Homo sapiens: one gene and its partner. The protein of the gene in region 2 interacts with the protein of the main gene of each other region in a biochemical or structural test. Each region holds a gene or a part of one and is shown on either strand. Other genes may lie near its edges.

Region 1 (3,500 bases), on a different chromosome or scaffold from region 2:
TTCCCACTTCAGCCTCCCCAGTAGCTGAGACTACAGGCGTGCACTGCAACACTTGACTAATTTTTTTTTTCTCTCTCTCTTTTTTTGGTAGGGATGGTCTCACTGTGTTGCTGATCTTGAACTCCTGACCTCAAGCAATCCTCTGTCTTGGCCTCCCAAAGTGTTGGATTACAGGCATGAGCTGCGACTCCTAGCCAGAGCTGCTTTTTATATGTTTATTGGCTATTTGGATGTTATCTTTTGGAAGTGACTATCGAAATCTCTTATAATTTTCTGTGTTGTGTGTCATTTTTCTTACTGATTTGTAGACTTTCTTTACACTTTTTGTAGATGAACTCTTTTTCAGTTACATTTGTTGGAGGATCCAGGGGCAGTGGCTCACGCCTGTAATCCTAGCACTTTGGGAGGCTGAATTGGTTGGATCACTTGAGCCCAGGAAATTGAGACCAGGCTGGGCAATATAGCAAGACCTCATCTTTTTTAAAAAACAAAACAAAACAAAACAAGAAAACCCACACATTTGTTAGAAGTATTTTTCATTCTGTGACTTGCCTTTTCATTTTTTTGAATAGTATATTTTTATAAATAGAGATTATTAATATAATACAGTTGATCAGTATTTTTCTTAGGGTTACTGGTTTTTCTGTCCTGTATAAGAAATACTTTTCAACCCCAAAATCCAGGGAAGACATTTCCGTTATCTTTTAGAACTGTATGACTGGTACTGTAGCTACTAGATCCATGTGGCTATTCAGATTAATGGGGAGTTGAGTCTGTTCTCTCTCCCCTAATGCAAGACCCTGTTGCAGTGGTCCCTGTCTCCATGGCCCTCTTTAAAGTCAGCCTTACTACCTTATAAATAAGTAAATAAATAAATTTAAATTATTAAAAATAAATTGTAGAATTAACTTCCTTAGTTGCAGTAGCCACATTTTAGGTGTTCAGTGTGTGCCTAGTGCTCAACATGACTAGTGGCAACCATACTGGACAACACAGATACAGACTATTTCCATCATTGCAGAAAAGTTCTCTTGGGTCCTGTTATCCTAAAACTTAATTATTGTACCTTCACATTTATATCTCTTATTCATCTGTAATCACTTTACGAGTGGTTTTGGGAAGGGGTCGAGCTTCATTTTATTTCCTATGAATAGTCAACCTAACACCATTTAGTGAAAAGACCATCCTTTCCCCATTGCCCAGCAAGGCAACCTTTGTCATCATTTAGGCCTGTTTCTGGGCCATCTGTTCTGTTTCATTGGCACATTGGTGTATCCTCATGCCAGTACACAGTCTTTATGACTTTGCTTTAAAACTTGGTTATGATGTCCTTTAGTGAATTCTGTTAGCATCTGTGTTGAAAATGTGTGATTTTGGTTTTGTGTCCTGTGTTTGTAATGTATGTAAAGTATGTGACATAGCTCATTCTAAATCCTGCTTTGAAAGTCTTTATTGAATGCCTGTTATATGTGCCAAGTACTGTTATAGGTGCTGGGGAATAAAGCACATCTAAACTTACTGTAGAAACTTTCATGCAAATAGATTGTATGGTTAGGAAGATGATTCTCATAGTGATCATAAAGGCAAGCAAGAAAAGAGAGGGAGGTGAAAATGCTGTGCAGGTAAAGCCAGTATGAATTGTTGAAGGATGTGTCACAATTCTGTATGACTGTAGGAGAGGTTTTTAAAACAAAAACATTGTGTTTGATTTTGATGCATTCTCATTTGAGTGGCTCAGTGTTGAGTATGCGGTTATGTGTCTTCTTATTCAGGCTTGCTCACTGTACTTTGTTTGTGCAGGGAACAATGCTATCATGATCATTATAATGTAAACATCCCCTCCCAAAGTGTTAGGAAAAGTCTGCTGCAGCTCCCTGTGGTCTACTGTCAGTTACCACTTGTACCCATCTGTTTTATAGCCTCTTCAGTTTTGTTACTGCTGCTGTCATTTCTGCCATTACTCTTTGTCCTGTGGACTTGTTTTTAAAAGTTCTGTTATGATCACTTTAATAAAGTTTCAGGAGAGAGGGGAGGCTAATGCATGTGCTCAGCCTGGCATCTTGAGCTTTTTAGACAGAATTTTCTCCTTTTGTGATACATTAATTTATTTCCTGTTGCAAAGAGATGGAGCTTCTTGCAGTCCACGAAACTGCCATATACCTCTATGATTTTGTTTTTGGATTCTGTAAGATACCATGTTTAGTAGACCTGTGTTGTTGTCCACGAGTCTACAGGAAGATGTTCATGTTTTGTTTCAGAAAATATTTCTGTTGTTTTGTGCTTTTCTTAACTCATCAAATACAATGTGTGGCTCGCCCTTGGCCCTTCATATTGCTTACCTTAATTGTGTAGACCATAACCAGTTTCTACTTTGACTAAAGTTTGACGTACACAAGTTACTTGAATGTGGGGATTCTGTCTATCCCTCTACGCCCTAGTGTACATAGTACTATATATTATAGTCTCTTTAAGTGTTAAATGAAAAACCAGTCTAAAATGCAGGATTTATATTAAAAATCGAGTTGCCTGCTTAATGGTATTGTGGTTTCCTTGTAGACTATAATGATAAATTTTGTGAGACTGGGTGAGTCATTTTAGGTAAAAGATTTGTGGAGCTTTAAAGTGATACTGGAGTATTTATATATGTTAATGGAATAGGCTGTCTAATTTTGTGTATGGGTATGGTGATGAGACCAAGGCTCTGAGTCTGATTTTTACCCCTTGTGTATCCCCGATATGTGGATCGTTTTGTGGGACATGTATTCTTAACATTGGCAGACTTGCCCTCTAATAACTGATAACTGCTGTCCAAGGGTTCAAATACAACCATCCATGAATGAACAACCCAGATCATCAGGCTGCTGGAAAAAACAACCCAAAACATAGACTTTCAAGATGATTCAGTGAAGTTTCCTTTTGATATGGAGAATAGTAATAGGCTGTTTTTATTATCAAGAAGTTCTAAACATTTCACTGGGTAACTCACTTTTACTTAAAATAGTTGACTGTCAATAATATCTCATTCTATTTTTTACTTAAACTTTTTCCATAGGTGGTTCTTTGAACTAGACTTTCAAATTTTTTTATGAAAATGTTTTTAATCGTGTGATAATAGGTCAAAAGATGAAATTCTGAACATGATTATAATTCTCACTTTTGCTGAGATATTAATGCTAACCAGAGTAGTTCAAAAGTAGTCCCTTTATGAGATAGCTTAAATTACATTTTTTCAAAGTGATACTAAATGAAATTAGTCATCAGTGTGTGCCAGGTTCATAAGATGAGAAAGCAAATTTAAGGCGAGTAAGCAGTTGTTGATGGGGGTGCATGGGGCCATTGCTGGGTAGTGCTGAATATGGACTTGATTGGTAGCAAAGCTGTCTGGAACAGTGGTCTTGGGGTGGGAGGTAGGGGTCAAATGGTATCCCTTCTTTTATAAGAGCTCTTTTTTTAAGCTTTCAGCAGCGAAATAACCAAAAGGCGGGCAGCAGAAAGGAAAA
Region 2 (4,009 bases):
AGGGGAGGGGCGGGGCCTTGGAGTGCTGGGGGAAGGGGAGGGGTGGGACTCTTACCCGCTGCAGCACGATGATGTCGCGGTCTGTGAGTTTGTCTCCAGTCACAGGGTCCACCATGTCCTTCCGAATCAGCTTCTCCACGCATTCGAGGGTGACCACAGCCCCACTACGGTGAGGCCGAAGGCGGGAGACTCTGATCAGGGGCCTTCCTGGGGACCTACTGGCCCCAAAGCCGGACCGCCCCGCAGGTTCCCGAGTGGTCCCTTCCCTCCCCTCCCAGGTGACTCACGAGGGCCGCAGCACAGCGCAGGGGGTGGCGTTGCTCAGGCTGTCGCGGGTCACGGCACACACGTAGCGCTCGCTGCGGGTGATGAGCCCCACGCGGTCCACGGAGCTGTCTAGCGGTGTGAAGTGCACGGGCGTCAGGTCCGACATGCGCAGGGGCTTCCCTGACATGGGGCAGGTCACCGTGCGGGACTGCAAGGGGCAGAGAGAGGCGGGCTCAGTAGGCAGGGCTGGCGCAGGTGGAGAGCGCGTGGTCCCTGTGCGTGAGGAGGACGGTGGGGAACCCTGGCGCCCTGGCACCGTGCGTGCCGGGGCGCTGTGGGGGCTCACCGGCTTCTCCAGCTTGGTGGCCTTGGCTTCGGGCGTCAGCGACGGGATCCAGAAGCTGGGCAGCACTTTGTCCTTGTCCTTACTTGGAGGACCCACACTGGGCCCAGGTTGGACATCATCTGTGGGGGAAGGAAGGGACTCAGATGCCGCCCCCTGGGCCCGCCCAGCCCGCGGCGCCCCGCCCCCCAACCCACAAGAAGCCCAACCTGAGTCACCTGGGCTGGTGCCCGAGAGGGCCTTGGCTGTGAAAGGGTTGAGGGGCCGGCTCACGATAGCCGACTCCTTCTCCAGGAAGCCCCGCACATGGTCCTGCGAGGCCGCCCGCTGAAGCTCCTTCTGCTCCTCGCGCCGGGTGCCCCGCTGCTTCTCGTAGGCCTGCGTCGGGGAAAGTGGGCTGAGCATCTGCCCGTGGGGCTGGGGGTATCTTCCTCCCATTTCACAGGTAGGTAAACTGAGGCCCACAAAGGGGACCCTCTGATGGAGGCACTATGTGGCAGAGGGTGGTAACTGCCACCCTGGGTGGGTGTGAACCTTACTGCGTTGTATAGCCAGACTGCCAGGGCTCAAAGCCCATCTCTGTCACTCTGTGGCCTAAGTGAGCACTATGACCTCTCCTGGCCTCAGTTTCTTCATCTGTAAAACAGCCTAACAGTGGTTACCCACCTCAGCGGCTCACTGAAGGGTTACATAAGGTGAGTGTTTACAGCATGGAGAGCCTCACCTGGCACTCAGCTAAGCATTTAATTAATGTCACCTGCTGGCCAATTAAGTTTTCTATACAGTGCATGCCCCAGCCCGTGTTTGGGACGGGGGATGTAGACTTCAGATCTAAGGGAATGCTGAGGAGCCCATGTCTATGGACGGACAGTGAGTGAGGACGGGAGAAGTGAAGCCATGACCTGAGCTCAGCCCTGCCTGGCGCACAGCAGTTGCCTGGGCGGTGCTGCAGTTCCAGACCACCCTGGGCCACCCAGCTGAGTGAGGAGGTAACAGTGACAGTGATGGATGCTCATGAGGGCCTCCGACATGACCACCAGGCTGTGTGGAGGACATGGGCACAGGGGGAGCCACCTGCTTGGGACAAAAAGCCCAATAAGCATGTGACCTGTAGTGTTTCCTGAGCGCCAGCAACCAGGCAGGGGAAGAGGGGGACAGACCCACTGTGCCTCAAACAGGGCCCCTCCTACCCATCAAATGGCTTTGTCCATGGAAGGCCAGGCCGGGTTCCCAGTAACACGCCTTGAGAATGCTCATCTGCGTGTACCTCCCAGGTGCCCTGCTGTGTCCTCTGATTTGGCCGTCAGCCCGTTTTACAGACGATGAAACTGAGGCCCAGAAAAAATGAGGTGATGTCAATTCACGTAGCACATCTTTTTTTTTTTTTTTTTTTTTGAAACAGAATCTCGCTCGGTTACCCAGGCTGAAGTGCAGCGGTGCCATCTCAGCTCACTGCGACCTCTACCTCATGGGTTCAAGCGATTCTCCTGCCTCAGCTTCCTGAGTAGCTGGGATTACAGGCGCCCGCCATGCCCGGCTCAATTTTTTTTTTTATTTTTTTATTTTTAGTACAGACAGGGTTTCACCATGTTGGCCAGGCTGGCCTCTAACTGTTGACCTCAAGTGATCCGCCTGCCTCGGCCTCCCAAAGTCCTGGGATTACAGGTGTGAGCCACCACCCCCGACCCATTTAGCATATCTTTACTAAGGACCTAAGCTACAGGGTGGGAAAACTCGAAGTCCATAAGGGAAAGTGGGCATGTGTCAGACAGCCACATGTACAGCTACAACTATGCTAAGTGCTAAGAGAAGAGGTGACTGGGGCAGATCCTGGGGACTGGCAGGAGCTCAGAGGAGGCAGCATCTGGGCTGAAATCGGTGAGAAGGATTTGGCCGGAAGCAGGGGAGGGGAATGGTGTACCAGGCAGAGGGAACTGAGATCAGAGGGCTCTGAGTGGCTCTGCCTGTGAGCTCAGACTCAAAAGCTCCTGCCTCCGTGTGCCGCCTCCTCCCCATCCCCATCACCTTCATCTGCCGGGCAATCTCCTTCTTCTGGTGCAGAATGTACTCCAGGATGGCCTCACGCTCATACAGGTAGCCATCTGGGCTGCAAAGACAGGGTGCAATGAGAAAGAAAGAAAGTGATCCTCCCGCCTCGGCCTCCCGAAGTGCTGGGATTATAGGCAGAAGTCATCATGATCAGTCCCAAGTTCAATTATTTGCTAGAATTCACAGAACTCAGCAAAGCTGTTATACTCATGGTGATAGTTTACTGCAGTGAAAGGATGCAGATTAAAATCAGCAAAGGAAAAAGGCACATGGGGCAGAATCTAGTAGAGACTAGATTTGAGCTTCCAGCTGTCCTCTCCCAATAGAGCTGCAGGGAAAGTGCTTCATTCTCTCAGCAACAATGTGTGCCACATATTGTTGCAGCCACGAGTTCGAGACCAGCCTGGGCAACAAAGTGAGCTCCCCTCTCTACAAAAAACAAACAAAAACGCCAGGTGTGGTAGTGCACACCCGTGGTTCCAGCTACTCGTGGGGGCTGAGGCAGGAGGATCACCTGAGCCTGGGATATCAGTGAGCCAAGATGTCCCCATTGCACTCCAGCCTGGGCAACAAAGTGAAGACTCTGTCTCAAAAAAAAAAAAGAAACCTGAAGGTGGCCTTGGGGGCCCTGATCATTAATTACTGTCTTCTACAAAATATACCACTAATTGAGCACGTATTTAGTGCCTGGACTCAGCACCTGTTAAGCCTTTGCCCTACCATCAGAGGTAGGTCATGGGAAGTGTCCAAAGGTGAGCTGCTCCGATGGCCTCGGCAATGCTCTGAGAGCCCTACACCCCATTAGAAGTATGTTCCTTTCCATATGTTCCACACTATGAAACAGATGCTAGGATCATGCCCATGTCCCATGTGAGAATACAGAGGCTCTGAGGATAAACTGCTCATCCAGGGTTCCCTGGCTGTGCAGGTGGCCAGACCCACGCACACAGCCTCCTCCTGGCGGTTCCCTTGCTCTCCCCACCCAGACCTACCCATCCCTGTTCCCAGCTCACGTGACAACAGGATCGTGGCAAGGCTGCAGGGAGAGACAACAGCAGTCGAAGTCCTTCACGGCATCCCGGCTCAGTCGAATGTTCTGGGTCCCATAGCCCGAGGCCGCTGGGGACAGAGATGGGCAGAGTGATGGAGGGGCGGAGCAACAGGAGACATGTCCGTCTCCAAAGCCCCAGAGAGAGGCACAGAGACAACGCGGTGGTGGGGGTGGGGGACTCAGAGAGAAACAGGCAGTTGGGAGCCGCTGCCTGTGTGCTGGGGCCACGGGCTGAACCCACAGGGAGTTGTCAACCCTGGAGGGTGAGAGGCAGACAGGCCTGGTCACTGAGTGGCAGC

The links. The genes of interacting proteins can lie anywhere in the genome.
Region 1: the proteins of NOSIP (region 2) and PPP2R2A form a complex in vitro, tested with the Homo sapiens proteins (one study listed by BioGRID).

The regions. Positions count from the first base shown.
Region 1 is NC_000008.11:26,350,508-26,354,007, forward strand, and holds part of PPP2R2A (serine/threonine-protein phosphatase 2A 55 kDa regulatory subunit B alpha isoform), read left to right. Parts: intron 1-3,500. UniProt on the Homo sapiens protein: Substrate-recognition subunit of protein phosphatase 2A (PP2A) that plays a key role in cell cycle by controlling mitosis entry and exit. Involved in chromosome clustering during late mitosis by mediating dephosphorylation of MKI67.
Region 2 is NC_000019.10:49,556,262-49,560,270, forward strand, and holds part of NOSIP (nitric oxide synthase-interacting protein), read right to left. Parts: intron 3,779-4,009; coding exon 3,673-3,778; intron 3,644-3,672; exon of another isoform or gene 3,174-3,643; intron 3,089-3,173; exon of another isoform or gene 2,718-3,088; coding exon 2,636-2,717; intron 989-2,635; coding exon 829-988; coding exon of another isoform or gene 820-828; intron 733-819; coding exon 614-732; intron 476-613; coding exon 288-475; intron 165-287; coding exon 56-164; intron 1-55. UniProt on the Homo sapiens protein: E3 ubiquitin-protein ligase that is essential for proper development of the forebrain, the eye, and the face. Catalyzes monoubiquitination of serine/threonine-protein phosphatase 2A (PP2A) catalytic subunit PPP2CA/PPP2CB.